7 linked regions of the Homo sapiens genome follow. The protein of the gene in region 7 purifies or fractionates together with the protein of the main gene of each other region. This does not show direct contact. Each region holds a gene or a part of one and is shown on either strand. Other genes may lie near its edges. The genes, in order: GBP2, GOT1, MDH1, ITM2C, AGA, ASS1 and GSR.

Evidence for each region.
Region 1: the proteins of GSR (region 7) and GBP2 fractionate together in Homo sapiens (co-fractionation; one large-scale study listed by BioGRID). This does not show direct contact.
Region 2: the proteins of GSR (region 7) and GOT1 fractionate together in Homo sapiens (co-fractionation; one large-scale study listed by BioGRID). This does not show direct contact.
Region 3: the proteins of GSR (region 7) and MDH1 fractionate together in Homo sapiens (co-fractionation; one large-scale study listed by BioGRID). This does not show direct contact.
Region 4: the proteins of GSR (region 7) and ITM2C purify together in Homo sapiens (co-immunoprecipitation; one large-scale study listed by IntAct). This does not show direct contact.
Region 5: the proteins of GSR (region 7) and AGA fractionate together in Homo sapiens (co-fractionation; one large-scale study listed by BioGRID). This does not show direct contact.
Region 6: the proteins of GSR (region 7) and ASS1 fractionate together in Homo sapiens (co-fractionation; one large-scale study listed by BioGRID). This does not show direct contact.

Annotation. Positions count from the first base shown.
Region 1 is NC_000001.11:89,115,821-89,119,994, forward strand, and holds part of GBP2 (guanylate-binding protein 2), read right to left. Parts: exon of another isoform or gene 3,091-4,174; intron 2,223-3,090; exon of another isoform or gene 1,958-2,222; intron 1,954-1,957; coding exon 1,757-1,953; intron 1,415-1,756; coding exon 1,172-1,414; intron 1-1,171.
Region 2 is NC_000010.11:99,423,884-99,428,057, reverse strand, and holds part of GOT1 (aspartate aminotransferase, cytoplasmic), read left to right. Parts: intron 1-4,174. UniProt on the Homo sapiens protein: Biosynthesis of L-glutamate from L-aspartate or L-cysteine. Important regulator of levels of glutamate, the major excitatory neurotransmitter of the vertebrate central nervous system. Acts as a scavenger of glutamate in brain neuroprotection.
Region 3 is NC_000002.12:63,601,981-63,606,154, forward strand, and holds part of MDH1 (malate dehydrogenase, cytoplasmic), read left to right. Parts: intron 1-2,715; coding exon 2,716-2,892; intron 2,893-3,299; coding exon 3,300-3,413; intron 3,414-3,958; coding exon 3,959-4,048; intron 4,049-4,174. UniProt on the Homo sapiens protein: Catalyzes the reduction of aromatic alpha-keto acids in the presence of NADH. Plays essential roles in the malate-aspartate shuttle and the tricarboxylic acid cycle, important in mitochondrial NADH supply for oxidative phosphorylation.
Region 4 is NC_000002.12:230,874,606-230,877,682, forward strand, and holds part of ITM2C (integral membrane protein 2C), read left to right. Parts: intron 1-1,014; coding exon 1,015-1,203; intron 1,204-2,251; coding exon 2,252-2,362; intron 2,363-2,794; coding exon 2,795-2,945; intron 2,946-3,077. UniProt on the Homo sapiens protein: Negative regulator of amyloid-beta peptide production. May inhibit the processing of APP by blocking its access to alpha- and beta-secretase.
Region 5 is NC_000004.12:177,439,167-177,443,944, reverse strand, and holds the start of AGA (N(4)-(beta-N-acetylglucosaminyl)-L-asparaginase isoform 1 preproprotein), read left to right. Parts: upstream 1-1,507; 5' UTR 1,508-1,569; coding exon 1,570-1,696; intron 1,697-3,518; coding exon 3,519-3,672; intron 3,673-4,256; coding exon 4,257-4,369; intron 4,370-4,778. UniProt on the Homo sapiens protein: Cleaves the GlcNAc-Asn bond which joins oligosaccharides to the peptide of asparagine-linked glycoproteins.
Region 6 is NC_000009.12:130,443,427-130,448,284, reverse strand, and holds the start of ASS1 (argininosuccinate synthase), read right to left. Parts: upstream 3,325-4,858; 5' UTR 3,290-3,324; intron 1-3,289. UniProt on the Homo sapiens protein: One of the enzymes of the urea cycle, the metabolic pathway transforming neurotoxic amonia produced by protein catabolism into inocuous urea in the liver of ureotelic animals.
Region 7 is NC_000008.11:30,721,160-30,725,333, reverse strand, and holds part of GSR (glutathione reductase, mitochondrial isoform 1 precursor), read left to right. Parts: intron 1-4,174. UniProt on the Homo sapiens protein: Catalyzes the reduction of glutathione disulfide (GSSG) to reduced glutathione (GSH). Constitutes the major mechanism to maintain a high GSH:GSSG ratio in the cytosol.

The sequences.
Region 1 (4,174 bases), on a different chromosome or scaffold from region 7:
AAACTTAAACTCCTGGGCTCAAGGAATTCTCCCACCTTGGCCTCCCAAAATGCTGGGATTACAGGCATTAGCCTCCTGTGTTCTATTTTCTTGAAGTTGCAAAGTTCTATCCTGCCCTATGCATTTCCACATTACATTATTTGCTATAAAGCTATTCCTCTATATGCTTTGGTTAGCTCTTAACCATTTATTTAATATATATATATATTGGAGACAGGGTCTCACTCTGTCTCCCAGGCTGGAGTGCGGTGGTGCAGTCTCCGCTCACTGCAACCTCTGCCTCCCAGGCTCAAGTGATCCTTCAGACTCAGCCAGCTGAGTAGCTGGGATTACAGGTGTTAGCCACCATGCCTGATTAATTTTTGTGTTTTTAGTAGAGGAAGGGTTTCCCCATGTTGCCCAGGCTGGTCTCAAACTCCTGAGCTCAAAGTGATTCACCCACCTCAGCCCCCCAAAGTTCTGGGATTATAGGCATTAGCCACCGTGCCCAGCCAACTCAATCATTTTTAAGTTCTCATCTTACAGGTGACTTTCACAGACAAGCATTCTCTCACACTCTAAATTATATCTCCCTGCCTCTCCCTTTACTCTTTCATAGCAGCCTATTATTTTTATGCATTGTGTTAACCACTATTTATCATTATACTTTTTTTTTTTTTTACTTTTTACAGAAGTATCTTTTGCTCCTATTATGCTGGAATGAGGATAAAAGTCACATTTCTTTTATCCATCATTATACTCAGTGGTTGGTACATTACATTATAGGCATTCCCTAAATATTTTAGAATTGCTGAACAAGAGAATTGTACTGCAGTTAGTTAGTGGCAAAGTCTCACTTACATATAGTATTTGCTTTTTTCTTTGTTGCTCAGTATATATATCCTGGATGTTTATTTGATAAAGAGGGAGCTGAGAAGTTGGTGGAGAAGTTTACCATAATAGAATTCAATTCTAGTTCTTTTCTTTTTTTATTCTCCTTGCAAGGAATATGAGATGATACTATAGCTTTAGTTTTCATGTAAAATTTATAATATGATTTTCATGTTGTATTTTCCTTGCCATCAATAGACTATGCATTTGTCAGAAGTGACCCTTATGCTTTCCATTTTATCCTCTACAATGGGCAGAAGGAGAAAGTCCAGGTAGGAAGTGGGTAGAGAGAGTGACTCACGAGGCCCATTGACTGGAATGCCACCTGAAAGAGTCTTGACATTGGAATGGCTGAGGATGTAGGAACAAAATTCTGCAACTTGTTCTATGAAATCAGGGTTCAGCTCTTCCTCCTTTAGCTGCTCTAGGTGAGCAAGGTACTTCTTAGGAGCGGGCCAATCGAAGACGAAGCACTTCCTCTTGGGGAAGAACTTTCGGATGCACAACCGAGGATCATTAAAGCTTTTACTTTTCTTATCAGTACCTACAGGAATGAAAATTAGAAGTAGTAAAACTTCAAATTAATTACTTCAAATATGATCTTTCAATTTTATAATTTTCACAAAGCCCATGTAAGGAGGAAATTTATTAGGAAGAAGAAATAAAAAATTAAAGGGGTAGAGAAAGGAAAGTCTCCAAGAAGAGGTAGGTAATGCAATTTAAAATTGGTTCCAACTGATATAGTCAAGCAATGTTTCCATTTCCTCTAGCAGAACAGTCAGAAAAATACAGTTAAAAATTATAATTTTTAGCACTGCACAGAAATGGTTATTTTGATATTATTTGCTCTCTATTTATTACCCAACCAAGCATCAGACCCAGTAACCTTTTCTTAGCTTTAGCGAAAGCTCCAAGTAGTCATCAGCAGTGATGGGTTCTCCATCTACTTCCAGTTCCAGGGTGAAATCTCTGAGAGTCCACACAAATGCTGGAAAAAAGCTCACAAAGTCAGCTGAGTCGTCTACAGAATTGTTACCAGGTGAGGAGTTTGCCTTGATTCGATCTGTCAGCTCTGTCACATAGCTGAGATGCTAAATTAAGAAAACTACAGAAAATGCCACTCTTTATACTACATTTTATCCTAATGCTTACCTAAAATAATTTGGTTTCTTTTTATTAGCTCATTCATTCATTCACAAACATTTATTTACAGAATTCATTCACTCACAAACATTTATTGAGCACCTACTATGAACCAAGCACTGCCCTAGGGACTAAGAACGCTGTAATGAATGAGACAATGCTACCACTATAGAGCTTACATTCTAATGATGGAGACAAACAATGAACAGGTAAACAAAAATAAATTATCAGGTATTGATAACAATTGTCTTGAAGGAAAACGAACTGGGCAACTAGCTCCTAATGTATTTTTAGAAACTAGCAACCAATAGACATTCATCTAATACTCTGGTGTCTCCCAAATCTACCAATAAGGAAAGCAGAGAATAATTGTGTGTATCTGCATGTGGTGCTGGTTCATGTAGTTTTCCAGGTAAATTATCTCTGACATTGTAGTTGAGCAGTGATCTGAATGAATTGAAGAAACCAGTCATGTACAAATCCAATGGAGGAACATTGCAGACAGAGATCACAGACCCTTCAAGGCCCTTAGATAGGAAATTACTGAGTGTGTACAACATATATCAAGAAATCCAGTGTGGTAGGGCAGAAGCCTTAAAATAAATAGAGGTTGGGATATGCAAGCTCTGTAAACCAAAGTAAGAAGTTTGAAATTTAATAGAAAGTTAATGGGAAGTCATTGGTGGGTATTAAGTGAAGAGAGGATATAGTATCGTTTTTTGTTTTTTAAATCATACTGGCTGGCATTGCATCTGTGAGTCAAGTGTGTATGCCAAAACAAACAAACAAACAAAACTAATACAAAAAGCAATTAGGTAGTTGAAAAGATAACCAAGATGAGAGGCAATGGAGCAAGTAGTGAGAATTGGCTAGTCTAGAGAAATAACTTTGATAGTGGAGCTGAAGGAGTTTGATGATTAATAATTTCCAAAACATAAGGAATGGAATCATCCAAGATGATTCCTAAGTTTTTGATCTGAGCACTTCTATGAATGATGTGGGAATTTATTGTGATTAGAAAGACTGGGAAGGAGTTGTTTTGGACAGGAAAATTAAGTTTTGTTCTGTACACTTTAGGCTCAAGATGTCTCTTACACATCTGAATGGAGATGTTGCACCAGAAGCTGGATACAAAAGTTTGAATTTGCTCATGCTTGGGAATACAGATTTGATGGTGATAAACATATTGGTGCTACTGAAAGCCTTGAAGCTGGATGTGATCATCTGGGGACTGAAAGCAGAAAAAGAAAAGAGGCACAAGAACTTAAGTGTTATAATATTTAGAGGCTAAAAGGAGAAAGAGGATAGAGTAATCTGAAAAAGTCTACCAATAAGGAAGGTGGAAAATTAGGAAATGTGGTATTCTAATAGGAACCAATTCCAAGTGAAACAGGCATTTCAGAAAGGTGGAAGGGATCAAATTTATGTAATGCTCCTAGAGAAATAAAAGGCTTATGGAAGATTGGAAGATCAAATGAGGTGAGAACTGTGCATTACATATAGGAATATGGGGGTGATCTTGATGAAATCTAATTCAGTATAATGCTTGAAACTAAGCTAATGGAAATGGTGAGGTCATTGATAATGAACTAGGTTAAGTAATGTGTGAGAGTGGAGAATGACAATAAGGGTGGAGAGTTCCAATAAGGTGATGGAACTGAGACACCAGGGTGTTAAATAATTGTCTATTGGTTGCTAGTCTCTAAAAAGACACTAGGAACTAAAATCTTTAATGAATGAAGGATGTATTTATTGGAACGTTGCTAGATAATTGCAACAAAAATAGTGGTGTAGTCTGAGGGCATATATATTAAAGAAGATTCTCTTTTTAATGGTAAAGGAATGAGAAAGTGTCCAGAACTCTAATATGGAGCAAGGAGGATACCTAACTCATCTCTTACACTTATGATATGCAAGGTATGGGATTAAAAATAGTCATCACATAAGACCACTGGAGAGGTCTGTAGGAGAAATAGTATCTATAGTGTATAGCTAGGTATCATTTAGAAGGCAACACTTAGAGCAGATGATAAGAATATAGAGAGTTGCAGAAGTGAGAACATGAGTTCTAGAGGACATTGAAGGTTTGGACAGGCATAGGAGATTAAGTCAGATAGAGGATATACAGAGTCTTGGGTGGCTGAGTATCTAACGAGACATG
Region 2 (4,174 bases), on a different chromosome or scaffold from region 7:
AGAAGCAATGGACTCAGAATTGGAGTCATTGACTCAGACGGCCACCTCAGCTGTGAAGGTGCCTTTGTCATGTTTTCCAGGAACTCCAACTCCTTACCATGAGCAAATTATTTATGCATGTAATCTCACTGAATGCTCACAACTCTGGAGGGTGGTTTATTACTATTACTGTTTAGAGGCAAGGAAGCCGAAGACTGGAGAGGTGAAGCAATTTGCCCCAGGTCATTTGACCACTGGGTGGTAGAGCTGGGAATCCAGGCCAGGTCTCTCAGGCCTCAGAGTCTCTGCCCACACCTGTATTTCAGGTACCTCCAGGTGGTAGCCAGTACACTGTAGTGGGAAGAGCCAGGAGACCTAGGTACAGGCCCAGCACCGTGGTCCAGCCATGTGACTTGGAAGGGTTGTTTAACATCCCTGGGGCTCATCTGTTAAATGAGGAGCCAAGATTGAATGACCTCTCTCCCAAATTCTACTCTTAAGATTCTACTGGGCCAGGCATGGTGGCTCACGCCTGTAATCCCAACGCTTTGGGAGGCCGAGGCGGGCGGATCACGAGGTCAGGAGATTGAGACCATCCTGGCTAACACGGTGAAACCCCGTCTCTACTAAAAATACAAAAAAATTAGCAGGGCGTGGTGGCGGGCGCCTGCAGTCCCAGCTACACGGGAGGCTGAGGCAGGAGAATGGCGTGAACCCAGGAGGCGGAGCTTGCAGTGAGCTGAGATCGCGCCACTGCACTCCAGCCTGGGCAACAGAGTGAGACTCCGTCTCAAAAATAAATAAATAAATAAATAAATAAAAAAGATTCTACTGTACTAAAAGTCAACTCCACAATTCACTAGCACATTCTATGACTGTAGCGTAGGATAATAATTTTACTGGCCTCATCAGTTGTCTGAGGATTAAATGAATAATTATATGTGAAATGTGATATATAAATGAAAAGTGTCATATATAAGTGTTATTTTTGATCATCACTGTGACCCGTCTTTTTGTGGATAGCAGGTGTTTGGATAAGGATCTAATTAGAGTAGAATAAAAGGTCTCCTTCCAGCCGTTATATGTCCTAGTCTTATTTATACACATCCCCAAGTATACCCCTTGTGAAGAAAATGTAATTAATCATTGACCTTAGGGAAGATACTTTTTTTCCCCCAAGTTAATATAAAACCTAATGGAGGTTATCTAGTTAATGTTCCAGTGATTTTGGACACGTTTAGAATAAACTGCACCTGTAATCTCAGACAGTTCCTACTTGCAGCTAGTTTCCTCAGTTTTTCTTCTTGCTGTGATGATTTAAATAATTTCCTTATAGGTAAACAGAGGAGAGTATCACATTTTCCACTGCTAAGCACAATGCTTTCTAAGTTGATCATTTTAGTGCTTCTCAAAGCTTCAGACTGAAGTGGTTTTAAGGACATGGGAAATGGATCCAACCTGGTGCAACCTGTAGCAAGAAGTTTCTTCAAAGACTCCAGTCCATTTTTTCATGTGAGCCTAGCTTTCTTTTGGCCCAGATAAACTCTGCTAGCTTTAATATTTCTTATTTTCAACATGGTTTCCTAGCATCTTCAAATAAAATAGTTGGGAAAATATGCTTTATCAGATGTTTCTGAGTACCCCTAGCCTTCTCCCCAGTATCCTAATAGGCTCTTGAGTGGGGATAGGTGAGGGAAGTGGCGATCTTAGGAGGAAGATGAGGGTGATGGTTTGACCATTTAAATCTGTGTTCTTTCTTCCTTTCCTTCTGCAAAGCAAGACTGCTGGGCCCACCTGTAGACTGTGTGACTCCCCTAAAAGGGTTTATGTCCAGGAAGAAGAGCAGTGGGGCATGGAGCTGGGGAGCATGCTGATAAAAAGGCCCCTGACATGGTCCCAGGGGCCTGCTTGCTTCAGGCTTTCTCTAGACATCTCTTGCTTTTAAAAAAGCACATGGATCCATGAACTTAATAGTATGACAGCCTAGCTCTTGTTATCTCTGTGATCCTGGGCAAATGGTTTGACTTTTCTGGCTGCAGCAGCCAGATCCTTAAAATAGACATCACAATATCTATTTTGTGGGTTGCTATCCAAATTAAATGAGAGTAAAGAAATGTATTTAGTGCAGTACCTTGTATGTACAAAGTATTTAGTAAATCCGTGTTGTTATTTCTCTGCCCTCAGGTTCCGTCAATGTCTTTCTCCATGCCCCAGACCTCATCTCTGAATGTCAGGCCTACAGTGGACACATCCTACAACTCCCTCAAATTCAGCATGTTCAAAGCACAGCTCATCATTTCCACCTTCCCCTTGATCTTTTCTTCTATCTTCCCCTTGTGTTCTAGGTCTTGGTCGACCCCACTACCACCATCCACTCATTATCCAGACTTGAGGGAGACCTTGGAGTCAACAGCAGCCCTTTCCCCAATCCCCTGTCTTTTTATTTGGTCAATAGGTTCTGTCTTTTCTACCTCGAATCTATTTCCAATGGCACCCCTTTTCTTCATCCCTGCTGCCATTGTGTGAATTCAAGGCCTCATTATTTCGCTTCTGGAATATTGCAGTAGCTTTCTACTCCTTCTACTTCTAGTAACTCACCCTTCTTAACTACTGTCTCTGTCCTTCTCTCTGGTTTATTTTCTGTGGTGTCACTCAAATGATCCCATTAAAATGTGCAGCTGCTCATGTTACTCTCTTGCTTAAATGCTTTCAGTGGTTACCCATTGAAACTGAAGTTCCCTAAAAGAGACTCCAGGATTCTTTTAGCCACTCCCAGCTAATCCTTAGTGGATTCCACATCAGAGTCATGAAAATGCAGATCCTCAAAGACCTCATGCTCCCCAGGCCTCTGGGGCCTTGCACAGGTGTGCCCTCTCGCATGCCCTTCTTCCCTTGTTTACCTTTTAAACTCTTATTCATCTTTCATTCTTCATTCTCTGTAAAATCTTCTCTGATTCCTCAAATTAGAATTAAAGGCTCTATCTATGCTCTGTGTTTCTTGGAGGGCAGATGGGATCTTATTTTATCAATCTCTATAGCTTCTACTAGCCAGTGCCTGGCTCATGGTGAGACTTAGTAAGTACTTGTTATGTGAGCGAGTGAATGAAAGAGTGAATGAGAAACTCAAGGGTCCAACAAATAGGAATAAAAATTCTTGGGGACAGCAGGAATAGTGGTTGTTGTTAATGCCTGACCCCACTGCTCCAGTCACCCAAGAGGAATCTGGTTCTGCTTCACTAGGGCAGTTAGGAGAGGCATCAGGAACAAATCTAGAACTCAACCTGGGAAAAACTGGGCAATGGAGAAGGAAGGGGAGTTGTAAATTGGCCAGTTTTTTTTTAGTCACAGTATAGACACAATGCCTCTCCAACCATCCCCAACCCAAGTAGTAGTATTGGAATTTTAGAGTTTCACAGAGTATTCAGTAGTGGTAAGAACAGCAGTATTCCAGTCTTTTCTTTCTCTTTCATATTTTATTTATTCATAGCACATTATTTGTGAATGACATATTATCATAAATATAAACACATAGCCTAATAATGTTATAGAATAGATATAACACCCAGACACAGAACTGAAACATAACAGAACTGGTTTTTCTATAAACATCCCAAATTTTTTTGCATCTACCTAGTATCCTTTGTAGGTAGTTCAAATATGCTTTTCTTGTTCCAAGATTTCTAGAAACCCCTTTTAGACTAGCTATCAAGGCATGTAGGACCCACACAAGGGATCATTTTTTAAAATAATTGTTCTCCGTAAGTTTTACCCAGCTTATTCACTCACTCTTTTCAATGGAGATGATGCAAATGCTATTCCCGAAAAATAATTGACTTTCAAAGGACAAAGATTTGGCACTATTGAGGCTATTCAAAATAATGAGATGTTGCCTCTAGAAACAATTCCAAAAGAAGTTTCAAGAATATTTTGAACAATGGTAACGTTGTGATCATAGATATGTTGATGTGCTTTAGGGACAACTCTTACTTGGAAGTAGCTATTTTGGTACATCTTTAGAGAAGCCAGACCAAATCCCAGCTGGCGAAGGAGGCTTTTTGAACTTGTTGAGAAGTTTGGTGGACTAAGGGGTATATCATGAATGGTATGAGAGTATTGTGAGTTGGGCCAGGCATGGTGGCTCACTCCTGTAATCCCAGCACTTTGGAAGTCCGAGGCGGGAGGTTTGCTTGAGCCC
Region 3 (4,174 bases), on a different chromosome or scaffold from region 7:
CACTCTACCCTATCCCACAGGCTAAGCAGATCAATAGCTGGGTACCCCAGAAACCCAACTGTGAACTAATTTGTGGAGACTAATGCAAATATTGTAGATAATAGTCCTAATACTTGCAAGACTTGCAGGGATTAGATCGGTCAAAAGTGATTTACAATATCACAAACATAAATTTTTAAGTAAACTTTTAACTATTTTAGGATTTAAGAAAGCAGTCTCAACTAGTTTAAGAGTGGGAGTGAAAGTAAAGACAGTTTACTTCTTACTTAACTGAATAAATTAGTATGAAGACCAGTCGAGTCATTGCAGACATTTTAGGTAATGGCCTTTTTTTTCATCTTTATCCTTTTCGGTTGGTTGGTTGGGGTTTTTTTTTTTTTTTTTTTTTGCTTTTTATTTTGAAATAATTTTAGACTCAAAAGTCGCAAAAAAATAGTACAGAGAAGGCCCATGTACCCATCACCCATTGATGGTACCTTACATAACTACAGAGTATTATCAAAACCAGGAAGTTGATGAACTACACAATACTATTAACTAGACTTACTGAAGTTTCACCAGTTTTATATTCACTTATTTTTTTCTGTGTCTTTATGAATGATTCTATGACATTTAATTACAAGTGTAGATTCCTGTAACTGCCCCCATAGTCAAGGTACAGAATTTCTTCATCACTCACAAAAGAACTCCTTCATACTCTCCCTTATGGTCACACCACCCTCTGTCCCTGACATCATTTTTCTGCACTCCACCTCTATAATTTTGTCATTTTGAGAATTTACAAAAGTGGAATCATGCAGTAAGGAACCTTTTGAGACTGGCTCTTTTTCACTCAGTTTAATGCCTTTAAGATCCATCCAGGTTGTTGTTTGTTTCTTTTTGTTGTTTTTCCACTTACCCCTTTTATTTATTCCATTGCCTATGTAAGACATAATACAGTTTATTTAACCGTTCTTTTTTTTTTTTTTTTTTTTTTTTTTTTTTTTTTTTTTTTTTTGAGACAGAGTCTCGCCCTGTCGCCTAGGCTGGAGTGCAATGGCACGATCTCGGCTCACTGCAACCTCCGCCTCCCAGGTTCAAGAGATTCTCCTGCCTCAGCCTCCTGAGTAGCTGGGATTACAGGCACACGCTGCCACACCCAGCTAATTTTTGTATTTTTAGTAGAGACGGGGCTTCACCGTGTTGGCCATGATGGTCTCCATCTCGACCTCCTGATCCTCCCACCTCGGCCTCCCAAAGTGCTGGGATTATAGGTGTGAGCCACCGCGCCTGGCATATTTAACCATTCTTGAACGACATTTGAGTTGTTTCAGTTTGGAGCTGTTATTACCCTTATTTTAAAATTTTCCTTAAAATATCAAAGTGTATTCCTTTTCTTACATGGTAAATACTCAAATGCTTTATTTATGTGTGCTAAAGCTACAGACTCTGGCACAACTAGTTTCTTCTCCCATTCTTTTTGGGACACAGAGGAAGGAAGAATTGCCCACAATGTCACCAAAACAGATCAGCTTCTTAAAATATTTTTCCACATTCCCTTCTGGTTCATCATAAATTCTGTTGTCTAGTTAGGAACAAATTATACATATACCTGATCATAATTTATTTTCTGCACATAAACTTATCAGACAAATAACAAGCAGGCTGATTTTATTTAAATCTACCAAGACATTTCTTTTTTTTTTTTTTTTTTTTTTGAGACAGTCTCGCTGCATCGCCCATGCTGGAGTGCAGTGGTGCGATCTTGGCTCACCGCAACCTCCGCCTCCCAGGTTCAAGCGATTCTCCTGCCTCAGCCTCCCAAGTAGCTGGGATTACAGACATGTGCCACCAAGCCCGGCTAACTTTGTATTTTTAGTAGAGACAGGGTTTCTCCATGTTGGTCAGGCTGGTCTCGAACTGTCAACCTCAGGTGATCTGCCCGCCTTGGCCTCCCAAAGTGCTGGGATTACAGGCGTAAGCCACCATGCCCAGCCCAAGACATAACTTTCTAACCTTTTTTGTGGCTACTGTACTACATGTGATTGCAAGGCATTGCAGGACCCTAAAGTGCTTTCTGGAGTTATAGCTAGAGATTGTTACATATGTTATAATTTTAGAGTGTATATATGTGTGTACACACACACACATACACATATATAAAACCTCTTTCCTTCAGTTTCCTGATATATAAAATGAGGACAGTCATATCTTGGTAATTTGAGTCCTATCCAACTCTAAAATTTCATATTTAGGGTTATTTGAAAATTAATTTCTATATGGTATATAATAAAAATTTTACCTAAATATAAAGTGCCTAAATACCTGATTACTCAGAAGCACTGAGAAGACATCTCCAAGTAAACATTAACAGTGAAACAAAAGATCACATTTACATATTCAAGAAATAGTAAATTGATAAATAATAGTAACGATTAATGTTTTATGTTTGATACACCTACTGTACTAATAAGTTAACCACAAACTATGGGATGCTTCATACCCTTAAACATTCTACTCCATAAGGTTTCAAGTCCACAGTTGTTACCACTGTTAAGCTGTTGTAGGAAATTGCCAAGCAATAAATTTACATTTTTTACAAGTCAATATAACTCTTGTGTTCTCTTGAAATTTCAGAAGCTTTTTATCTTTATTTAAGGGCATTTGTCAAAACAGGTCCCAATTGGAAATAAAAACCATTTGTCTCAGTAATGTATTTGTTTTCAATTTAACTAGATTGCTCTTAAACTTGGTGTGACTGCTAATGATGTAAAGAATGTCATTATCTGGGGAAACCATTCCTCGACTCAGTATCCAGATGTCAACCATGCCAAGGTGAAATTGCAAGGAAAGGAAGTTGGTGTTTATGAAGCTCTGAAAGATGACAGCTGGCTCAAGGGAGAATTTGTCACGGTAAGAAAAATCTGTGAGCCTTCTTAACACTGAGCGTAAAGAACTCTTGAGAGACTCTTAGGACAGAAAACCTTAAAGAGGGCAGGTCTTTCACAGTTGCTCTGATGACTGCATACTTTCGGGATCATAGTAAGCCAGTCATGATCTAGTGTGATCTGATGTGACAGCAGTTGAGATTTATACCAAGATCCATGTCTTTGTCTGACCTATGATAAACTTTGTATGGAGATACATAGTTTCCTTTTTCCAGAAGGATTGGTAAGGCTGACATTGGGTTGTTGCATGATTTTGGAGGGGAAACATTAAGCTCTGGTCATAGCTTTTCACCCCAAGGTCGACTTGGAATTAATGAAAACTTTGCTATCATGACCAAGTAATACTGCTGCCTTCACCTGCCCCCTTCCCAGACTGTGCAGCAGCGTGGCGCTGCTGTCATCAAGGCTCGAAAACTATCCAGTGCCATGTCTGCTGCAAAAGCCATCTGTGACCACGTCAGGGACATCTGGTTTGGAACCCCAGAGGTAAGGATTTAGTGATTTGCACAGGTCACTCTATTTTATTTTTGTTGCCTGATGATATAATATAAAAAGAATATAGCCTTAGCAGTCAGTCAGGTTAGGTTCATTTCTCAGCTCAGCTGCCTATTAACAAGTAAACTTCGGGGTTTGTTAGCCTTGACCTTTCTGAGCTGTTTTGTCATCTTTTACATGACATTACTATTATACACAGGGTTGTGAGGGTTAAAGGAGATTGCACATGGAAAACACCTGGCACAATGCCTGATACATAGTAGGGGTGAATTTTTTTCTTCTATGCCACAGCTTCCTCATCTGTAAAATGAGGATTAGGTTTCCCTGGCCTACTTCACATATGATATGGAAGCGTGGAATGAAATAATATCCATGAAAGTTACCTTGTCACCAGTACCTGGTGCTGATGATAGTTCCTTACACAGTAATGATGTTATGAACATAGTAAGAAAGGGTCACCTGGTTTAATTTTATTAGTTCATGTGTCAGTTGTGTAAACTAATCATCATGAGTATGTGAAACATTGTTATTTTCAGGGAGAGTTTGTGTCCATGGGTGTTATCTCTGATGGCAACTCCTATGGTGTTCCTGATGATCTGCTCTACTCATTCCCTGTTGTAATCAAGGTAAGGTATTTTGGAGCTATTTCCCTTCTTTGAGGAAGTAGTTATATGTTTCTCTTAAGAATGGTATTATTGGCCAGGCACAGTGGCTCACGCCTATAATCCCAACACTTTGGAAGGGCAAGGTGG
Region 4 (3,077 bases), on a different chromosome or scaffold from region 7:
TGTGGGATGCAGCCCCGGAGCCTCACCTTCCCTGGGCTCTCATCCCCGCACAGCCCACAGGAGCCCCCCATGCTGCGATGACGCATCCTCCCTGGAGAACTTGCACTGAATCAAACAGACGGTGGAATCCTGCCGATCCCAGGCCAGGCAGTCCCAAGCATGTATCTACAGGCCCCTCCAGGAGCCCCCTCCAGAAGTAAGAGTGGGCAGACTGGCCCGCCCGGCCATTCAGTTGATGGGATCACACCAGGCTGCCTGGCCTCCCTTACTGATGGAGTGACTGGACTGGCCCACCAGACACAGTGTCTGTCAAGGTTTCTCCAAGACAGGGGTCAGGGATATCCAGGAAGGGCGATGGCACTTGTCCGAGGCTGGATGTGGAGGTAACCGTGATAGGGGCACAAGACTCTTAACAGTGTTGCCTCCAGCTCCACCTCCCCACCCGCCGTGTTAGGCCCCTCCAGGTCTGCAGGCCAGGACAGCAGGTGACAGGAAAGGCAGTCGTGCACAGGCGTAGGTGCCCAACTCTTAGGTTCGTCCTTGACCCCCTGCCAACCCCAGGCTCTTTCTCTGGTGTCTGCACCTCTGTGGAGGGCACGGAGGTGGCCAGGTCCTAGTCCTGCTGGGCCACCCCTTTTCCCAGTCACCGACTCAAGGACTTGGAGGCCAGAAGGGACCTTAGGGATCATCATGCTTTACTGATGGGGAAACTGAGGCCCAGAGAGGTCTGCCACCTAGAACCTGGCAGACCCAGCTCATCCTCCCTTCCGTTTGTGAAGCTGGGAAGCGCCTTGCCCAAGAATCAGCTCATCTCCTCACTGGCAGCCCCAGACCCTGACCTGATGCCCCACCGTCTCAGTTTCTCCATCTGCGAAATGGGTCTCACAGTCCCTGCTCTTCTTGCTTCCGCAGGCTTTTGGGGCATGTAGCGGACGGGTAGGCAAGAGGGGGCCTTACGGAGTGCGTGTATGACCAGCCTCTCTGACTGTCTGTCTGTCTCTCCGCCTTGCTCAGCTGGCCCGAGATAACTTCTTCCGCTGTGGTGTGCTGTATGAGGACTCCCTGTCCTCCCAGGTCCGGACTCAGATGGAGCTGGAAGAGGATGTGAAAATCTACCTCGACGAGAACTACGAGCGCATCAACGTGCCTGTGCCCCAGTTTGGCGGCGGTGACCCTGCAGACATCATCCATGACTTCCAGCGGGTGAGGCTGGCCAGGGCCTGGGGGTGGGGGGTGGGAGGGTGTCCCGGGGACTCAGGGCAAGGGGAGCAGGGATGAAAGGAGACTCCTCGGAGTACAGCAGGTGTCTACGGTTAGGCTTACCAGGGTCTTCAAGACACTGCTTTTCTCCTGTTAGCAACAATGGTTCTTGCTGAGTATGAAGCAGCCGAGGCTGATTTTCTCCTCAGCCTCCTGCCAGCTGCACGCTGGCTGTCATGGCAGGGCCAGTGCGTTGTATCGAGGGGTAGTACATTCACCATCGAGTGCATTGCGTGTACAGCTCAGCGGGTCTCTGCAGAGTGGGTCTCATGCGTATTCATGTAACCCCCATGGGTCCTGAGACAGGGCATCTCTCGCTGGGGTCCAGGCTGTCCCAGGAATGGCTGGCCCTCACAGGTTTCATAAATGCACAGCTGGGATGTTACCATGTTCCCCAAACCTCAGCTCTGTAAACATGAGAAGAAGCTTTATAACAACAGAGGCGTTTAGCAATCAGCTGCTATTTTCCTCTATCATGTGGCACCTTCTACAACAGGCTAAGAGAAGACCAGGAAAAGGGAGTGCCCGCCCAGGTATTGAGGAGTCTGGAGAGGACTCTGCTCCTGAAGGCCCAGGGTCCCAGGAAGGCATGGTGGGACTCCTGCCCCTGCTGGCCAAGCTGCTTTTTTTTTTGGAGACAGAGTCTCGCTCTGTCGCCCAGGCTGGAGTGCAGTGGCACGATCTCGGCTCACTGCAAGCTCCGCCTCCTGGGTTCACACCATTCTCCCGCCTCAGCCCCCCGAGTAGCTGGGACTACAGGTGCCCACCACCACGCCTGGCAAATTTTTTGTATTTTTAGTAGAGACGGGGTTTCACCATGTTAGTCAGGATGGTCTCGATCTCCTGACCTTTGATCCGCCCGCCTCAGCCTCCCAAAGTGCTGGGATTACAGGCATGAGCCACCGCGCCTGGCTGGCCAAAGCTTCTTGCAGCCCTGCCTGGGTCAGCTGTCACCTCCTGCAGAGACTGACCCAACCCCTTCTCCTGCCAGGGTCTGACTGCGTACCATGATATCTCCCTGGACAAGTGCTATGTCATCGAACTCAACACCACCATTGTGCTGCCCCCTCGCAACTTCTGGGAGCTCCTCATGAACGTGAAGGTGCGCAGGGGGTTGGGGGGATGTCTGCAGCATCCTGTCCCTCCCTTGCCCCCTGTCTCATGGAGGCTAGGTCTGAGGTACAGGAAGTTCCTGTGTCAGGGGTTGGGGGAGCAAGAGACATTGCTGGCACCTGGGCCCTGTACCCAGATTGGTCTCGCCTCTGCTATCCCCCTGCTTCCACATCTCCAGAGTCAATGCCCCGAGACCGGCTTCCTTAGTGTTCAAGGTTGTACCCTGGGTACGGACTCGTGCGCATGCCATTGCTCCTGGCAGCACAGGTGCAGGCACCGGGCACAGGCAGGAAGTGCCTGAGGACATCAGAAGGGCCAGCCCAGGGGCCTCTGGAGGAGGGAGGTGGGCTGGCATTTCGGGCGAGGGGTTGGACGAAAGCCTGAGGGGCCGACTCACTGTGGCGGCCACCTTGTTTTGCAGAGGGGGACCTACCTGCCGCAGACGTACATCATCCAGGAGGAGATGGTGGTCACGGAGCATGTCAGTGACAAGGAGGCCCTGGGGTCCTTCATCTACCACCTGTGCAACGGGAAAGACACCTACCGGCTCCGGCGCCGGGCAACGCGGAGGCGTGAGTGGCTGGCTTCACCCACAGTAGCCCCTGTCCCGTGCCCCAGACCACAGTTATCTTCACGCCTAGCCCAGCTGTCAGAGAGCTCAGATAGCAGCAGCAATAACAGCTAGCATTAGCAGAGCACTTCCG
Region 5 (4,778 bases), on a different chromosome or scaffold from region 7:
ATACTCAGCCCAGGAGCTAAGGAAAATTTACTCAGAGGACAATGTATGTTTTTCTGGCTTTCTTACCCTGTTTCACCCAAGTTTCCAGTTTCACCTGCCATTGGGTTATGATTACTCCAGCACAGATGACTTGTTCCTCTTCCAAACCCCATGAAAGGAACTTAGAAAATTTGTCTTTATTATATCTTTTAATTAACACTTCCCCAACGGGATAATGATACTTCTGGGCTATCTTATGTTCTTTAAATTATGTATTTAATTTCCTAGCAATCAATAAGAGCCTTGAAGGTTTTGTAAGTCTCACAACTCCTACCTAGTTTATATTTTTACATTTATTTATTTATTTATTTTTGAGACAGAATCTCACTCTGTTGTCCAGGCTGGAGTGAAGTGGTGCGATCTCGGCTCACCACAATCTCCACCTCCCGGCTTCAAGCAATTCTGCCTCAGCCTCCCAAGTAGTTGGGACTACAGGCATGCACCACCACGCCCGGCTAATTTTTGTATTTTTAGTAGAGACGGGTTTCACTATGTTGGCCAGGCTGGTCTCGAACTCCTGACCTCGTGATCCACCCACCTCAGCATCCCAAAGTGTTGGGATTACAGGCGTGAGCCATCGTGCCCAGCCTAGTTCATATTTTTAAAGTTTGTATAGATTTATAGATGCTTTTAAAAATTATGTGATTATGTGTCTTGCCTTGGCAACCTGGGCAGGCATTCCAGACACCCAAAGGGATTATTAGTTCATGTTCGCACGTCTGCCCAGCAACAAAACTGAGCAGCCTCCACCAAGCACGTAAAATCCCCATTCCTCCTCTTATTCATTTATTTAGCACTTAATAGTGCCAGGCAGGAAGGTAAAAATACATTTAAAAAGGAATGGAGGTAGCCGTCTTGCCCTGGAGGTGCAGGAAGCTGCACTTCAGTGTGCTAGGTAGAGGGTACATAGGCCGTTTCTGTTTTTCTTCCAGCTCAGGGATTTATAATGAGAGGAAGTGCTACAAAAAGCTGTGGTGCGAAAATGACGGACGCTATGAATGGAAAAAAAATCTAAAATCAATCCGGTCCTAAGCAAACACGCTTCACCTACACTCATAACTATTGCAGACCTCCGAGGCCTGGGATCCCCAAGAATATACTGAGTTTGACAAACTTTTCAACTTCAACTTTAAATTAAAAAGACAGTAAAAGAACCAAATCCATAGTACACAGCAATCGGCTAAAGTTCCTGGGGCCCTGCAACCCAGAGTTGAATAATTTTGTATTAAATTCCCAATATCAAGCTAAATCTATTTTAACCACAGGAAAAGCAGCAACTTGTCTGGCTATTTTAAAAATCTGAACAGCACTTAGGAAGAAGCACCTTAGCGCAGGGAACAGCTCAGTGCCCCGTGACACAACTCTCCCGCGGGCCCAGGGACGCCTCGTCTCGCGAGAGTTGAGGGACGCCTGAGCGAACCCCCGAGAGAGCGGGCGTGGGCGCCAGGCGGGCGGGGCACTGGGGATTAATTGTTCGGCGATCGCTGGCTGCCGGGACTTTTCTCGCGCTGGTCTCTTCGGTGGTCAGGGATGGCGCGGAAGTCGAACTTGCCTGTGCTTCTCGTGCCGTTTCTGCTCTGCCAGGCCCTAGTGCGCTGCTCCAGCCCTCTGCCCCTGGTCGTCAACACTTGGCCCTTTAAGAATGCAACCGAAGCAGGTGCGGGTTGGCGGCCTGGGCGGGCGGCTGCGCCGCGAGAGCTTGCGGGTGGGGATGACTAGCCCGCCCCGCTGCAGTCACCCGGCAGGGCGGACGGAAGAGCGCCGGGCTGGGCCGGGCCTCGCGGTCCCGCCCTCTAGGTCTTCCCGAGTCTCCAGCGCCGCTCAGTCTCTTGCAAGTGGCCTTTACTGCATCCTCCCCACCTACCGCTGTTGCATTTTAGGTCCTCCCTTCATGCAGCCCCCAGCGCAATGTATTTTCCACCCTGCTGCTGACCATAGTTATGGCCTTTGTGCTTTAATCAAGTAGCAGCTACGCTTTTCTGCCTGACAGTCTTTTCACGGGCTGTGTACGTCTCCACCTCTCGTTTCTAATCCTTCACTTCTTTGCAATTTTGTAGACGACTAATAGTGTCCCAGCCATAGCCTACTCTTTTCCCATTTACTTTTTTTGCCACGTGTTGTCATACTTTACCTGCCACTTAGAATTCAAGGTTCCAACCTTTGCTGTACATTCACACTATCTGGGGAGCTTCTCAAAAATCATCCTGCCGGGGCCCACCTCCTGTGACTGTGATCTAACTGCTGGAATCAGGGCCACTGTTTTTCTTTAAAAAGCTCCCTAGGTGATTTCGATTTGCAGACAGGGTTGAGAACCACTAAGCTAAGGTATCACCTCTTCCAGGAAGCGTTCCCTGACTTAACTGCCCTCGTGTCCAGAATGAGTTAGGTTCCTGCCTTCTACACCTTGTTAATAGCCTTTACGTACCATTATCTTGGCATTTTCGCATTGTACTATGCTTGTTTCTTTCATTTGCTTAATGACCAGAAGAGTCATTTTCAGACCCCTCCTCCTCCATCTGAGGTTGCTAACGTATTAACTTTCTAGGGCAGAATTGGCTCCAGAATTTGGTGGCAGTGCATACGATTCAGAGAAAATGAAGAAGCAGGCTGTGAGAAAGATATTCCCAGCCATAATGAGACGAAAAGAAATTGCATCAGCCTGGGCGGGGGACAGTTCTGTGTTTAAGTTGCCTGTATTGAAAGAGGGAACTTGCGTAAATACACTTTCAAGCCTGTAGGTGCTGTAGTGTTTACCAACCAGAGCACCCACTCTTCAAGGAATTCTGTTGTTACCAGAAAAGAAATTGTCCATCAAAGACCCTTCCCCCCACACCCCCAAATGTATGGGATCCTGGCTCTGCTACTTACCAGCTGTGTGACCTTAAACTAACTGCCTGACCTGTGGCTCTGTTTACTTTTCTTTAAAATGAGGGTCGTGATTGTACAGTACCTACCACAGAAGCTGTTATGAAGACTCAATGAACTAATCCATATGAAGTCCACGTTGTAATTGTTTGCTGTTCAGTATTATTAAGACTTCCTGGGATAGGTGTTACCTCAATACACATATCAATTATGCATATTTTAATCTAATGATGCAGAAGAAATGTGTGAAGAAGGCTGCGGTTTAGTGGATTTTTTATTTAACTGCCTTTTAGTGGTTTCGATTGTACCTTTTAAAATAAAGGAGGGGATACTGATTTCGTTTCTCGCACACAGAAGAGATAGATATTAGTAAGTGAAAAAAAAAAAAACCTTCAGCTTGCACCAATAGCCAGTTTTTTGAGTTCTTCTGATAACTAGTTAAATAATTTTGACTCTTCACTGACTCCTTTGTAACACTTGATAAACTAATGTGTTAAAAAATCAGCTTAACTCAGTAAATGTGAAAAAGTTGTTAAATTGGAGTTGGTTTGTTGCATTTGGCATTGAAAAAAAAATATATATATAAACAAGCATTATTGGGATTTGATTAACAGCGTGGAGGGCATTAGCATCTGGAGGCTCTGCCCTGGATGCAGTGGAGAGCGGCTGTGCCATGTGTGAGAGAGAGCAGTGTGACGGCTCTGTAGGCTTTGGAGGAAGTCCTGATGAACTTGGAGAAACCACACTAGATGCCATGATCATGGATGGGTAAGAACACCGTTCAGGTCCTATTTATTATGTTGAGTTACATTTAGAGTTGTGGTCTTCTGAGAGCAAGATGAAAGAATGCATGAGTTTTGACACAGATCAAAACCCCTAGCTTATTATACTTGACCTTTCTAAACACAGTTTCCCTCTCAACTGAAAAAAAAAAATCAGAGTAATAGAAATATCACATGGAGAGATAGGTAGTCCCTTAGAACTGGGAGAATGCCAAGCTAAAAAACTATGTCTCTGACCTTATAAACAATCATTTATCTGCTGTCCACAAATGCTGTGGTTTGCCTGACCTGAAGCCTTCAGGCCCCTTTCAAAAGCCATATTTAAAATTAGCTTGGAGAAACTGAGAATTTTAGTGCTGTTGTGGTACATGGCAAGTTGATTTTCTATTTTTTTTCCTTAATTTTGTCTGATTGTGGGAATCTATATGAACTTCGTGGATGTGCTGTCACTTCTGTGTTAAGATGGTGGAGTTTAACCGCAAAACACTATTGATTGGAGAAAAGCAATGTTTTTAATCTATGAACCTCTGAAAACTCCTTAATTCCTAACTGCATTCTATTTTCTTGCAGCACTACTATGGATGTAGGAGCAGTAGGAGATCTCAGACGAATTAAAAATGCTATTGGTGTGGCACGGAAAGTACTGGAACATACAACACACACACTTTTAGTAGGAGAGTCAGGTATTTTTTTAACTACACTGAAATTTTTTCTAGTCTTTTGACTATAGTTTTCACTGAAAAATAGTACAAAATCATGGATAAAACCAGATCTAAGTTCAAATTCCAGCTGTTTTACTTAACATCTATTGAACTGGATAAGTAACTTTTAAATCTCTTTACTTCTTCATCTCTAAGAAGAAGGCAATGGAAGTTTTGAGACGGAGTTTCGCTCTTGTCACCCAGGCTGGAGTGCAATGGCGCGATCTCAGCTCCCGACAACCTCTGCCTCCTGGGTTCAAGTGATTCTCCTACCTCAGCCTTCCAAGTAGCTGGGATTACAGGCACGTGCCACCATGCCCAGCTAATTTTTATATTTTTAGTAGAGACGGGGTTTCACCATGTTGGCCAGGATGGTCTCAATCTCTTGACT
Region 6 (4,858 bases), on a different chromosome or scaffold from region 7:
TATGCATGCAGAGAAATGAGCTGGGCAGATGGGCTTGGGAAAATGATGCAATCAGACAGCAGCGTTGCTCCTGCCCTCCCAGCAGCGGGTGGGGCACCCCCCTCCCTCAGCCTCCGCAGGTCCCTAAGCTGCATTTGCAGCCCGAGGCAAAAACTAAATGAAACTGAGGGTTTGATGTCGGGGGAGGAAGTGACAGGGAGAGAAGGAACCACAGCTGCAATCCAGTGAGCGCTCACTCCAGGCACAGGACAGAGGTCAAGTCCACCAGACATGGGTTTGAGTGGCTTCAGCTCTCTAGCATAACTGCTCAGCTGCAAAATAGGGGTGCAAACAGCCTGCTCCCCACAGGGCGACTGTAAGGATTGGGTGAGATGCTGGGGGAAGGAGCCCAGAGCTGGGCACCAAGCATGTATGTGCCCACTAAGCTCTGTGCACCGCTGCTATGGCTGACCTCAGCCAAGTTCCTGGCTTGCTAAGCCTCAATTTCCTCATCTGTACAACCTGACAGCCCTCTGGGTTCTGACCCTCCCAGACATTGGGCTTTCTTCCTGGGAGCTGCGCCTGGCAGGCAGATCCTGGCTGAATTCAGCCTCCCCTAGTCCCAGCTCCACCCCCACCACATCCCCCAGAAAGGGCCACGGCAGGTTTCTCCAGCTCCCTGGCAAATGCCCACTGCCCTCCAGCCCTCCTTCCCCGGAAGAGACACCTGGGAGGAGGGAAGGTGGCCTCGCGTCAAGGTACCAGAGCCACCTGGCTTTCATTGGGATGGCATTCTCTGTGGCCCCAGCCACAGCCATCTGTCCAGCTTCCAGCAAACAGGCCAGCCTGGGCGCTCACTTGACACTAAGGAAAACTCGTGCTACTTGAAAACGTCAGAGCTGGAATGACAACAAGAGCGGCTACTATGTTCACAGTCACAGGTGCATCCTCTCAAGGTGGAGACTGCCATTACCACCTATTTACAAAGGAGGAGGCAGAGGCTAAGCGGCCAGCCGAGGTCACAAGCTAGCGGCTTCAAACCCAGCCTGACTGCAGGCCACTTGCTCTTCCCTGCACTAGGCCTTCCACTCCCTGGCTCCTAGGAGACCTCAGATCTCCCCTTCACTCTACACACCTTCCAGAAAACCAGCCCCCCAGTGAGTCATGGCCAACCTGCCCACTATTTCTCTGGAGAGCCTGTGTGCTATAGCTCAGGCCTACTGCCCCGTGGAAGATTCCCCTGCAACCCCTCGCTGACATTCTAACTCAGCTGAGCTCGGTTTGTCTTTGGTGATGGACGAAGGGCACATTCATTCATTCGTTCCACTCATATCAAAGTGCCTATGGGTGCCTGGTCGACCCCAAGTCTGGGGAGGGAGCCACGCCCTGGAAGATCAACTTTGCCCAAAGCTACATCAGAAATCAGAGCCTTAGACTCTGAATTCCAGCGAAGTTACCTCTTTCCACATGGGTGCCTGGTGCCCACAGGCAAGCCACTGACTTCAGGGACTGTGTAGTCAGTGCTCAGATGAGGCATCTGGTTGACCTGGCTGGCCTCCCAGCAGGCCAAAGATGAGATGGGCCCGGGTTGGGAGGGGGAAGCGCTTGTGCAGCAGGCTGTTTTGGGCCTGGCTCCACCCCAAGGCTCCTGCGGCCCTGGGCCTGCTTCCCAAGCACTCAGGAATGGAGACTGTGCTGAGAGTGGGGCCTCCCCTTCCCTCTCACGACGTGTCTGCCCCCGCACCGGCCAGGCGCTCAGCAGGCAGGAGTCACTATTCATTCACTTGATCCACCCCCACAGAGCAGAACCAGAATTACTTCTCAGCATGGTGCACAGATGGCCCCGCCAGGACAGGGTCCCGCCCCCACCCCCAAACTTCCCCGCCCTAGGCCTTGGGCCTAAGGGGTCTGGGAGGGAGAGGGAGTTTGGAATGGAGACTCCTCCAGTTCCTGCTCCTAGCCAAGCTTCCCAGTCCGTGTGGCTGCTTCTCCCTCCCTCTCATCAGAACCTAACCCCAGGCACAGTTATTGTGCAATTGGACCCAGGCCCAGCACCCAACAGTCTACAGAGCCCTTAGCAGCCGCACAGTATCTGCAAATGTTTCCTGAGCCCTCAGCCCCAGCCAGCTCTAACAGACTGAAGCTTGGGGGCCAGGCACTTTGGGTGGCTCGAGCCTGTAATCCTAGCAGTTTAGGAGGCCCGAGGGAGGAGGGTCGCTTGAGCCCAGGAGCTCGAGGCCAGCCTGGGCAACATGACGAGTCCACATCTCTGATAAATTTTTAGAAAGAAAAGAAAATGAAAAGGAAGCTTGGGAATCTGGAGGCTGAGCCAAGGCCTCACCAGCTCTCCCCATCACTGGGTTTGTGCTTGCTGGGAGCGGGAGGATCAAAGCCCAAGTCCCCTAGGTCTTGATCTACCCCTGGGGAGAGAACAGGTCTGTTCCTGCCCTGAGACCTGCAGCCTGACTCGGCTGCTCGGGAGTGGACTCTCCACTTCTCAGAGAAGAATACTGAGGCCAGGCCAGCCCTCCTCAGGAACAGCCCTGGCCGCCTGGGAGAGGAGTTTCCTCTCTTTCACAATGACCCTGCCTCCCTGGAGGGCGCAGCCGCCCAGGGGCCAAAGGCAACAGCAGCCCGAATAGAAAATATTCCTGGCACTGCCCCTCCCACAGAGCCCAGCCCAGGCCAGCAGGAAACCCCGCCGCGAGGCCGCCAGCCCCACCGGGGAGGGCCAGGTGGCTGCCGCCCCCTGCAGGGAAGGGAGCCAGGGCCACCATGCCCATCTGTCCAGGGTAAACTGAGGCTGCGGGGAAAGCGATACGTCCAAGCCCCAGAGGGGCTGGACTCCTGGTTTTACGCAGAGAAATAGAGGTGGAGACAGACGGCGAGTCCGAGAGAGGGAGAGAGAATCGGGAGCCCCCCCACACGCTCCGGACTCCCCAGGTCTCCATGTGGGGGCTTCACGACACAGAGGAAGCCGGATCCGACAAGGAGTCCAGAAAGGACCCGGCTGCGCAGGGAACAAATAACCCGAGCCGCTCTTCGGACCCGGGGACTCGCGCCCCCGGGGACTCGCGCCCCCGCCGCGTCCCCCACGCTCCAGAAACCTGGAATCCGGTGCCAGGCGTTTGAGCATCGGGAGCCCCTTCCCTCCTGCCTCGGTCCCAGTCCCCGGCGAGTGGCGATCGGGGTCCGCCCTCTGCCTCCGCGGGCCCCGGGGCGGGCGTCTTCTACGCCTCCTCCTCTGGGCCCGGGAAGCGGGTGCTCTCGGCTAGGGAGTGGGCAGCGAGAGGGGCCGAGGGCTCCTTACCGGGCTCGGGCAGCGGTGGCAGGCGGCAGAGCAGGACTGGCAGGGGTGCCCATCCCAGGTTATAAGCACAGGGCCCGGGGGCAGGGCCGGTGACCGGGGACACGTGGCGGGGACGCGCGCCACAGACCCCGCCCCCGGGCCCGGCCCCCGCCTGGAGCCGCTCAGCGTTCACAGCCACCTGCAGATGGGCGGGGCCCGCCTCCCCAGGCCTCGTCCCCACCTCCCCCCGCCTCCCACCAGGTCCGGGCCTGGGCCCGGCGCCGGCTCACCCTCCCAGGGGCGCGCCGGCGGGGGCGCAGGCGGCTCGCGGTTCCTGGCCCTGGCCCGCGGGCTGGAGGCGCCAAGGAGGGCGGCAGTGGCTGCGACCCATGTAACTCAGGGGCGGAGGGTGGCCGCAGCCGTCCTTCGAGAGACTTGCCTCCTGGCCCTGGGGAAGCAATTTAAACGCTTCGCGGTGGGAGCCGGGATAAAAGTTCCACTGGCGCAGGGAGCTTCGTGCTCACTTCTATCCGGTGCCGGCAGCCTGGGCCTTCTGCAGCCCCCAGAGCCCCCTCCCTCCCCAACCATAGCCTCTGGTAGCCGAGTAAGGATGAGAAAACCGAGGTGAGCCGGCGCGGGAAGGCCCGGCTTTCATCCCTTAGGCCAGGGCTGATTGCTGGCCTGTCTTCTCAGAGCCTGGCACCTGCCCAGACTCCAGAGGGCACCCAGTAAGCAGTGAGTAAAAGACTGTCTGGCTGCGAACCCACTAGACAGGAGGGAAGGTTGAGGTTCAGAGAGAAGTCTCTTGCTTGTAAAAAGCAGCTGGGAGTTGTGACCCCAGGCCCGCCTTCAACAGCTTCTCTACCTCAGGAGTTTCCCAGCTTGGTCTGCCGGCTCCAAAGCCCTGATCACTGCAACCACAGCCCCAGTAAAAGAGCAAGTCCTGGGACCCCATCCAAGGCAGTTGCTCCATAGTGAGCACTGACCCCAGAAGGGAGGACTCCCGGTCCTCAGCCGGCTCTGAACCTGGGGGAGGTGGGAGCCCCAAGCCTTGCCCAGCCGCTACCCTGGAGTCAGTGCTCCTTTTAATCACCATCCACTCTCAGCCCCTCTGCCAGTCAGCCCCCACCACCCCCTCAAGCCCATGGCAAGCAACAGTAGCTGTGAGTCCTTCTAGAAGGAAAAAAGGATCAAACCAATTCACAAACAAAGCCACAGCTCGATTCTCTCTTAAGCCCCTTAGTTCTCTGACACTTAAACCTGGGATGTGGCCCTTGATGGCAAAGGGGCCCCTGGTGAGCCACGTGGGGCTGGGTGTACATGGGTGGCTTGAGGCCCCTTCTAGATGGGAGGCGGTATCACAGCTGGCCCCCCTCAGCCCTCTCACAGGAGCAGCTGGGGGTCTCGTGGAGTCTCTGGGCCTCCCACACTAGCAGGAGGCAAGTGAGGAACACCTACACAATGACACCCTTGCAGCAGTTGTGTGTCCTTGGGGCGGTCACTCCCCACTGCAGCCTGTTTTCTCATTGGTAGGGTCGCCCTGGAAAGAGCAAGCATTCTGTTTTCACCTTCACGACTACCCTGTATGAA
Region 7 (4,174 bases):
GATTACAGGCGTGAGCCACCACGCCTGGCCTGTTTTTATTTTATTTATTGTTTTTTAGAAACAGGGTTTTGCCATGTTGCCCAAACTGGTCTCTTATGCCTGTGCTTAAGCAGTCGGCCTGCCTTGGCCTCCCAAAATGCTGGGATTACAGGCATCAGCCACCACTCCTGTCCCATTTTTTGTATTTTAAGTGCTGGGATTGGGGGTGGGTAGGGAGAAAACGATAGATATAAACATTTGTGAGACATGTCCCTTCCCTTAAGGAATTTTGTGGTTGTGAAAGAAAAAAATATTGGAACCCCAAAGTATGCCAGAAGGAAAGTTCAGCTTGGGAACTGAATCACACAAATACTGCTTTTCCTTTTGTTCCCAAACAGACAGCTGTAATTTCACAATCCCATGTCATAGCCTTATCTCCTCTACTCCTGCTTTTCACTTTTACTTTATCTTATGTAAAATGTAGATTTACTGAGGCTCATAAGAACCTCACAAGAATGTAACCATCTAGGCTGGGCGTGATGGCTCACGCCAGCACTTTGGGAGGCCAAGGTGGGCAGATCACCTGAGGTCAGGAGTTCGAGACCAGCCTGGCCAACACGGTGAAACTCCGTCTCTACTAAAAATACAAAAATTAGCCGGGTGTGGTGGCACATGCTACTTGGGAGGCTGAGGCATGAGAATCACTTGAGCCCAGGAGGCAGAGGTTGCAGTGAGCCAAGATCATGCCTCTGCACTCCAGTGTGGGCAACAGAGTGAGACTCTGTCTCAAAAAAAAAAAAAAAAAAAAAAGGTGGGGGGTTGGGTAGTATTCTTTGACATTCGGAACCTCAAAAGATGGGTCCCAGGCCTAGGCATCAAAACGGGATATGTTGTGTAATCAAATTTGGAGCACAGAGTGTCTCTTTAATAGAAATAAGAGATGAGAAGCTGATGGGTAGGTTGTGGTTTGAAAAATGTGGAGTTTCTGGACACACAGTGAACTATGGGGGCAGGGGTGGGTTTGAGCAAACCAGTGACTCAGTGAAAGTAGTTTTGTGGTAAGCCATAGGATTGAGATCTCACCCTTGGCGATGCCCAATAGAAGTTTGTCTTTCTGTCTTTTTCTTTTTCTTTTCCTTTCAGTTTATAGAGATAGGGTCTCACTACATTGCCTAGGCTGGTATTGAACTCCTGGACTCAAGCAATCCTCCTGCTTTGGTCTCCGAAAGTGTTAGGATTACAGGCGTGAGCCACTGTGCACGGCAGAAGTTTAAGATTGGTTCTCCCATGAGTTCTTTCCTAAATAAAATCCATTAATTTCTAACGCTTGGGGAAGTTTTAAAGTTGTGGTGAATGAACTCACACGGAAGGTTCAAATTAGAATGTGTGTCTAGCAGTGGTCATTTACAGGTAGTGAGATTGGTTGGTTTTTCATTGTTTTATCAGTGTTCCTTCATTTAATTGTTCAACCGTTAAAGTTTATGGGAGGCCATTGTTTTGGACCAGTCTCCTGTACTAGGTCCCAGCAGACCTGGGTGTGTGTGTGTGTGTGTGTGTGTGTGTGTGTGTGTTTGTTGCTCTGTCACCCAGGCTGGAGTGCAGTGGGGTGATCTCGGCTCACTGCAACCTCCGTCTCCTGGGTTCAAGGAATTCATGTGCCTCAGCCTCGTAAGTAGCTGGGACTACAGGCGCAGGCCACCACGCCTGGCAAATTTTTTGTATTTTTAGTAGAGATGAGGTTTCACCATGTTGGCCAGGCTGATCCCGAACTCCTGACCTAAAGTGATCCACCCGCCTCAGCCTCCCAAAGTGCTGGGATTACAAGTATGAGCCACCGCGTCTGGCATGTTGTTTCATTTTTAAGAGACAGGGTCTCCCTCTGTTTCCCAGGCTGGAGGGCAGTGGTGTGATCTCAGCTCACTGTAGCCTCAAACTCCTGGGCTCAAGCGATCCTCCCACCTCAACCTCCCGACTAGCTGGTTCTGCAGGTAGATACCACTGAGCCTTGCTTGAATTCAGCATTTCAAGTCTCCAAAAGGTTAAGTATATTGCTTATCTCATGATCTCGTGTAGACTGGAGAGAAATGCAAAGATCGCCCAAAGTCAAGGTGAATTAGAGCCTTCTGGGAGCTTTGCCTCTGTGGTTCGCTTCTCTGCCTACACACGTGATGGGAGAGTCAGCTTAAGGAAAAGTTGTTTCTAAATTGCTGCTCCCTTTGCCCCAGGGCCTGGGGAACTTGCGGTCCTGGGTTCCTGCTGAGTGTACTGATTCTGTGATAAGAATAACCAGGTTCCTGTGGTTTTGGCGAGTAGTACTTACCAATGAGAGTTGGGTAGTAAGGGTTGATCATGTGACAAAAGTTCATGATTGCCAAGTCACAGTGAACTATGCTGCACAGCAGCAGTTGGAGAGGCCTAGGGGAGAGAGAGGTAGGGGCTTTGAAAGATCAGTGAACAGCAGGCTGCTCAGTGAATCATTGTTCATCTAGGCTGAAAACAATTACCCAGCAACATGTAAATCATAACCTCATTTGGAAGTGATACTGTGTACTTTGATATTATGATGTCTATACCCTGGTAAAGCTGAACACTGGACATGCTTTTTTTTTTTTTTTTTTTTTTTGAGACAGGGTCTCATTGTGTCACCCAGGCTGGAGTGCAGGGGCATGATCATAGCTCACTGCAACCTTGAACTCCCAAGCTCAAGTGACCCTCCCACCTCAGCCTCCCCAGTAGTCAGGACCACAGGCACATGGCCACCACCATGCCCTGGCTGATTTTTTAAATTTTTAGTAGAGACAAGGTCTTGCTTTGTTGCCCAGGCTGGTCTCGAACTCCTGAGCTCAAGCAGTCCTCCCACCTTAGCCTCTCAAAGTGCTGGGATTACAGGCATGAGCCACCGTGCCCAGCCTGAACATGCATTATTAAATGCAATTTACTAAAAGGAGGTCAGTTTAAAGGAACTCTGTCATCAGTTCCTGCAATATTGACAGATAGCCCTCCGAAATAGAAGGTTACCCTAATGTGTCTCCTGGGTTTAGAATTTCATAGAATGGGGCCCACCCATATTCATAAGTGACAAATAAAGGAGTGGCCATAAAGGGTGGGGCTAGTTAAAGCAAGCAAATGCTATTGTTGAAATTTGGCTTTTAACTTACCTTGTTGACTGCTTCCTTTTTTTGTACTAGTCTTCATATACTGTTGCTTTGCCATCTGCCTCAAAACCCACTAAATCTGCAGGGCTAGGAAAAGATAGACTGCCTCTGAATCCTTCAGGGTGTCTATTTCTTTGTAAAACATACTTTGAAAAGTAACCACAGAGAATGCTTTTTTTTTTTTTTGAGACAGAGTCTGGCTGTCACCCAGGCTGGAATGTAGTGGTACCATCTTGGCTCACTGTAACCTCTGCCTCCCGGGTTCAAGCGATTCTCCTGCCCAGCCTCCTGAGTAGCTGGGACTACAGGCGTGTGCCACTACACCCAGCTAATTTTTTTTTTGTAGAGACGAGGTTTCACCACGTTGGCCAGGCTGGTCTCGAACTCCTGACCTCAACCGATCCACCCACCTCGGCCTTCCAAAGTGCTGGGATTATAGAAATGAGCCACCGTGTCTGTCCAAGAATCCAAGAACTTTTTTTATAGAGGGAAACTAAAGGAATGATATGGAAATACTGATACCCTTTGGCTTTTTTTTTTTCTTCTTGACACGAAGTCTCACTCTGTCACCCTGGCTGGAGTGCAGTGGCACGATCTTGGCTCACGGCAACCTCCACCTCCCAAGTTCAAGTGATTCTCCTACCTCAGCCTCCTGAGTAGCTGGGATTACAGGTGCCCGCCACCACACCTGGCTAATTTTTTTATATTTTTAGTAGAGACTGAGTTTTGCCATGTTGGCCAAGCTGGTCTCAAACTCCTGACTTCAAGTGATCCGCCCACCTTGGCCTCCCAAAGTGCTGGGATTACAGGCCTGAACCACCATGCCCGGACCACTTTGGCATTTGTAAGTGGCTTCCAGTCAGTGAGAATTCATTACCTTCTATTCACTAGGTGTTGCAACATTAAATATTACTGCAGTTACTTTTGCACCAGCCTAATAGGATGTGGAGGTCCTAGGTCCTTTTCTTTTTGGGGGACGGGAGATGGTGGGTATCAGGTAATAGTGGGGACTGACATCCAGAAGAGTTGTCTCACAAAAC